2 linked regions of the Homo sapiens genome follow. The protein of the gene in region 2 interacts with the protein of the main gene of each other region in a biochemical or structural test. Each region holds a gene or a part of one and is shown on either strand. Other genes may lie near its edges.

What was found. Proteins that work in one complex are often made in the same cells at the same time.
Region 1: the proteins of CNST (region 2) and GJA1 form a complex in vitro, tested with the Homo sapiens proteins (one study listed by BioGRID).

The regions. Positions count from the first base shown.
Region 1 is NC_000006.12:121,447,937-121,450,227, forward strand, and holds the end of GJA1 (gap junction alpha-1 protein), read left to right. Parts: coding exon 1-60; 3' UTR 61-1,791; downstream 1,792-2,291. UniProt on the Homo sapiens protein: Gap junction protein that acts as a regulator of bladder capacity. A gap junction consists of a cluster of closely packed pairs of transmembrane channels, the connexons, through which materials of low MW diffuse from one cell to a neighboring cell.
Region 2 is NC_000001.11:246,590,242-246,594,096, forward strand, and holds part of CNST (consortin), read left to right. Parts: intron 1-1,270; coding exon of another isoform or gene 1,271-1,321; coding exon 1,322-1,700; intron 1,701-3,855. UniProt on the Homo sapiens protein: Required for targeting of connexins to the plasma membrane.

The DNA of each region.
Region 1 (2,291 bases), on a different chromosome or scaffold from region 2:
TCAAGCAGAGCCAGCAGTCGTGCCAGCAGCAGACCTCGGCCTGATGACCTGGAGATCTAGATACAGGCTTGAAAGCATCAAGATTCCACTCAATTGTGGAGAAGAAAAAAGGTGCTGTAGAAAGTGCACCAGGTGTTAATTTTGATCCGGTGGAGGTGGTACTCAACAGCCTTATTCATGAGGCTTAGAAAACACAAAGACATTAGAATACCTAGGTTCACTGGGGGTGTATGGGGTAGATGGGTGGAGAGGGAGGGGATAAGAGAGGTGCATGTTGGTATTTAAAGTAGTGGATTCAAAGAACTTAGATTATAAATAAGAGTTCCATTAGGTGATACATAGATAAGGGCTTTTTCTCCCCGCAAACACCCCTAAGAATGGTTCTGTGTATGTGAATGAGCGGGTGGTAATTGTGGCTAAATATTTTTGTTTTACCAAGAAACTGAAATAATTCTGGCCAGGAATAAATACTTCCTGAACATCTTAGGTCTTTTCAACAAGAAAAAGACAGAGGATTGTCCTTAAGTCCCTGCTAAAACATTCCATTGTTAAAATTTGCACTTTGAAGGTAAGCTTTCTAGGCCTGACCCTCCAGGTGTCAATGGACTTGTGCTACTATATTTTTTTATTCTTGGTATCAGTTTAAAATTCAGACAAGGCCCACAGAATAAGATTTTCCATGCATTTGCAAATACGTATATTCTTTTTCCATCCACTTGCACAATATCATTACCATCACTTTTTCATCATTCCTCAGCTACTACTCACATTCATTTAATGGTTTCTGTAAACATTTTTAAGACAGTTGGGATGTCACTTAACATTTTTTTTTTGAGCTAAAGTCAGGGAATCAAGCCATGCTTAATATTTAACAATCACTTATATGTGTGTCGAAGAGTTTGTTTTGTTTGTCATGTATTGGTACAAGCAGATACAGTATAAACTCACAAACACAGATTTGAAAATAATGCACATATGGTGTTCAAATTTGAACCTTTCTCATGGATTTTTGTGGTGTGGGCCAATATGGTGTTTACATTATATAATTCCTGCTGTGGCAAGTAAAGCACACTTTTTTTTTCTCCTAAAATGTTTTTCCCTGTGTATCCTATTATGGATACTGGTTTTGTTAATTATGATTCTTTATTTTCTCTCCTTTTTTTAGGATATAGCAGTAATGCTATTACTGAAATGAATTTCCTTTTTCTGAAATGTAATCATTGATGCTTGAATGATAGAATTTTAGTACTGTAAACAGGCTTTAGTCATTAATGTGAGAGACTTAGAAAAAATGCTTAGAGTGGACTATTAAATGTGCCTAAATGAATTTTGCAGTAACTGGTATTCTTGGGTTTTCCTACTTAATACACAGTAATTCAGAACTTGTATTCTATTATGAGTTTAGCAGTCTTTTGGAGTGACCAGCAACTTTGATGTTTGCACTAAGATTTTATTTGGAATGCAAGAGAGGTTGAAAGAGGATTCAGTAGTACACATACAACTAATTTATTTGAACTATATGTTGAAGACATCTACCAGTTTCTCCAAATGCCTTTTTTAAAACTCATCACAGAAGATTGGTGAAAATGCTGAGTATGACACTTTTCTTCTTGCATGCATGTCAGCTACATAAACAGTTTTGTACAATGAAAATTACTAATTTGTTTGACATTCCATGTTAAACTACGGTCATGTTCAGCTTCATTGCATGTAATGTAGACCTAGTCCATCAGATCATGTGTTCTGGAGAGTGTTCTTTATTCAATAAAGTTTTAATTTAGTATAAACATAGCTTCTATATTCCGTGTGATTTGTTTCCCCTGCCGAGATGGAGTCTTGCTCTGTCACCCAGGCTGGAGTGCAGTGGCGCGATCTCGTCTCACTGCAACCCTTGCCTCCCGGGTTCAAGCAATTCTCCTGCCTCACCCTCCCGAATAGCTGGGATTACAGGCACCGCCACCGCACCTGGCTAATTTTTGTATTTTTAGTAGAGATGGGGTTTCACCATGTTGGCCAGGCTGGTCTGGAACTCCTGACCTCGTGATCCGCCCACCTCAGCCTCCCAAAGTGTTGGGATTACAGGGGTGAGCCACCGCACCTGGCCTATATTTAAAACTCATTGACGGCATCTATTTGAGATTATTTAAACACATTTCTATTGGTTATCAGAACTTCAGCAAATAACAGTCATGTTTTCAGGGACAATATTTATCATTAGCTCTGTTCAGTGCAACATAAATTGTAAACATTTTTGGATATTTATTGAACCAAAAGGAAGATAAAGTGTTGAA
Region 2 (3,855 bases):
CTGGGGGCTACATGCATCAGCTGACAGGACAGAAAGTTTCGCAGGGCTTCCTCATACGATGTCTGGAATTTACAGATAACACAAGTAGTTTAGGTCAGGGGTTAATATTATTATTATTTTTTTAACCACCAGGGCCAGGTGGTGGTGCCAGGGTCGTCTGGCTATTTATCTTACTTCTGTTTCTTTCCAACTTTTTGCTTTCTCCCTTTTCGCCTGTCTTATAAACTAGGCAAAAGTGGGAGAGAGGAGGGCAGCAGGAGAAGTGGTGGTCTCCTTCCTTAATGGTATAGGGTGAATATTTTATCTTGTACTTTTCATGGTTTTAGAGACTGTACTTTACATGTTTCTAAAGATTAAGCATTTCTACTCATTAAGTTGAAGAATCTTTAGAAGTCCTCTCACTGAGGTTTTTTTCCAGAATTACTGGATTATTTCTTTCATACCTATCATTTTTCTTAAAATGTAATACACTTGTAGATAATAAGAGGAAATAAAAGATGACTGATAAAGGGCTTGCAGTCTGTTTTGTAAATTTTAAAAATATTAGTGGTATCCTTCAAGCAGATTTAGCATTTCTTCCAATTCTACACTAAGAGTAGCCTAGAGTTAACCATGGCCTTTTTTTTTTTTTTTTTAAGTGTTCAAAAGGATTTTGATGACAACTCTAAGGTACCTTCCAGGGCTTATTTTTAGGAAATAAAAAATAAAACGATAGTATAAATATATGCTACCTAAACTTCCCCTCACATACTTTTTTCTAGGTTATTTTTTTTTAAAATCTTCAAACATTTTCATTTCCAAATATTGCTGCTGTTTAGCCAGAGAAGAACTTATACAACTAGCTTTCAGTTGTCTGCTGAGTGTCCAGGGATTAACATAAGAGACTAATTTCAGCACATAACCTATTTAACTAGTCATTTCATTCAGGCAGTGGTCCCAACCTGATGCACATTAGACTTACCTAGAGAACTTGAAAAATAGTGGTGCCTAGGTTCCATCCTCAGAGATTCTGATGTAATGGTCTAGAATAGAATTTGGGCAGCCTCTCAGGTGATCATCATGAGGAGACAGGCTTGACACCTGTAGTATTCATGTGAGAACTAGCTGAGTTTGGGGTTGGGTTGCATATGGTGAAAGGGAATGAACTTAAGTCATTTCCTTCTCTTCCCTATTTACAATGAAACAACCTAAGAGAAGGGGAAAATCAAAGATCACTGAGAATCTGCAAAGGTTAGAAAATGAAGTAGCTTTTTTCTTTTTGTCATTGTAGACATGGAAGGTCTTTAATGTAACTTTAAATGGTTCACCAAAGGATGCTCTAATGGATGACAGCGATACTCCTACATATTATCTGCAAATAGAACCACAAGATGGATGTCATCCTGGTGACAGCGTGGAAAGGAGTGTGACCTGTCTGCCTTCTGCATCAGATGAAAATGAAAATCAGCTTGACGGGGACGGGCATGAGCATCTGACCAGCAGTGACAGTGCGATGGGAAAGCCCCAAGTGTCTGAGCAGGACAGTCTCAATAATAATGAAAGCTGCACATTGAGCTGCGAGGTGGCTGCAGGTGAGAACTTGCAAAACACCCTTTGTGAAGCCTCCAGAGATGAACAGGCCTTCTTGGGAAAGGACAAAAAAATTCCTGGAAAAAGAAGTCCAAGAAGCAAAAAAGGGACTGCTAAGAAGATACCACCAGGTATTGTTTAAAATAGTATTTATCCTCTTCTTTAATTAATTAAAAATGAACCTCCTTCCCTCCCATACTGTGTTTACTGTCCTGCACCTTGCTTCTTTGCTTACGATATTCTGGAGCTAGTTCCGCCGCAGCACAAGTAGATCCAACTGCATGATATTCCAGTGTGATACGTCTCCACACTGTTCCACCGTATGGGTGTAACACAATTTATTTAATCACTTCCTTATGGCCCTTCCCAGTCTTTTACTATCATAAACAGTGCTGAGGCCGGGTACGGTGGCTCACGCCTGTAATTAGCACTTTGGGAGGCCGAGGTGGGCGGATTACCTGAGGTCGGGAGTTCAAGACCAGCCTGGCCAACATGGTGAAACGCCATCTCTACTAAAAATACAAAAAATGAGCTGGGTGCAGTGGCGTGTACCTGTAATCCCAGCTACTCTGGAGGCTGAGGCAGGAGAATCGCTTGAACCTGGGAGGCGGAGGTTGCAGTAAGCCAAGATCACGCCACTGTACTCTAGCCTGGCTACAGAGTGAGACTTCGTCTCAAAAAAAAAGAAAAGAAAAAGTGCTGAAATTGACATCCTTTGTACATGTTTTCACATTAGGTACTTTAAATATATGCAGCCTCCTCTCCCTCCTTTATAAATTAGACCATTTTCTACCAATATCAACCTTAAAAATTGCCTTCTGTCATTCCTGTGGCTTTGATCCCTAACCTGTGAGTTTAGATGCTACTGTGACCTCTTTATAGATCTTTCCATCTCACTCAGCAGGTAAATAAAATACAGGAACATATATTAATGTACAATTTAATATGTAGTGTTGAATAAGACATCTGGTTCTAATTATCTGTATCACTTTGGTTAAAAAGTAATTCAGAGTATTTCTTGTTTGGTATGCAGTTTGGCAGTTGAAGTTTAGAGCTATGGAATTTTTGGCCTGAATCACAGGGCCCCCTTGGGAAAAGGCAGCCTCTGGTTATTTTTTTTATCAGAAACATATGGGACTAGAAAGTTTTGGTATGCCCTAGACTGGATTCCTTAGTGTAGTACCACTTTTTACCCAAGCCAACAGATTTTACATCAGACTCTAGTGAACTAAGTAGAATGCCTCTTCATCTTCTGTTCTCTTCTTTGGTTAATTAGAAATATATCTGTCTATATCGTATTTTTTATTTGTATTTTTAAAATTTGAAGTAAAATACAAAACTTTTCAGTTTCTACAAAATCCATATTTATTCAATAAAGTAATTTGAAAACTTTTTAATATAATTCATAATCTGGCTTTCTGGTTAATGTAACTCATAATTTGGCTTTTCACGTCCCTGTATCTTTTTCTTAGTAGACTCAAAATAATTTTTAACCAGGGATATGAAAGCTTTTTTTTTTTTTCTTTTTTTTGAGGCGAGTCTCACTCTGTCACCCAGTATGGAGTGCAGTGGTGCAATCTCAGCTCACTGCAACCTCCGCCTCCTGGATTCAAGCAATTCTCCTTCCTCAGATGATTCTCCTGCCTCAGCCTCCTGAGTAGCTGGGATCACAGGTGTGCACCACCATGCCCAGCTAATTTTTTTTGTATTTTTAATAGAGACAAGGTTTCACCATGTTGGCCAGGCTGGTCTCAAACTCCTGACCTCGTGATCCGCCCACCTCTGCCTCCCAAAGTGCTGGGATTAAAGGCGTGAGCCACCGTGCCCAGCAAAAGCATTTCTTAAAAGATCTAATAAGCAGAGGATATTTACAGTACTATGTATATATAAATCAGTTTATTCTATAACTATCATTCAAGGGCAAATTCACCAGGCCTCTCAATCTGATTTTGTGATTTTATTTTATTTTCAAGACAGGGTTTCACTCTGTCACCCAGGCTGAAGTGCAGTGGCGTGACCATGGCTCTCTGCAGCCTTGATCTCCCAGGCACAAGCGATTCTCCCACCTCAGCCTCTGGAGTAGCTCGGACAACAGGCATGTGCTACCATGCCTGACTAATTTTTCTTTTCTTTTTATTTTTGTAGATAAAGAATCTCGCACTGTTGCCCAGGCTGATCTTGAATTTCTGGCCTCAAGCGATCCTCCTGCCTAGGCCTCCCAAAGTGTTGGGATTACAGGCATCTTGTGATGTCTTTAAGAACTGATACTTAGTTGCATACCTATGA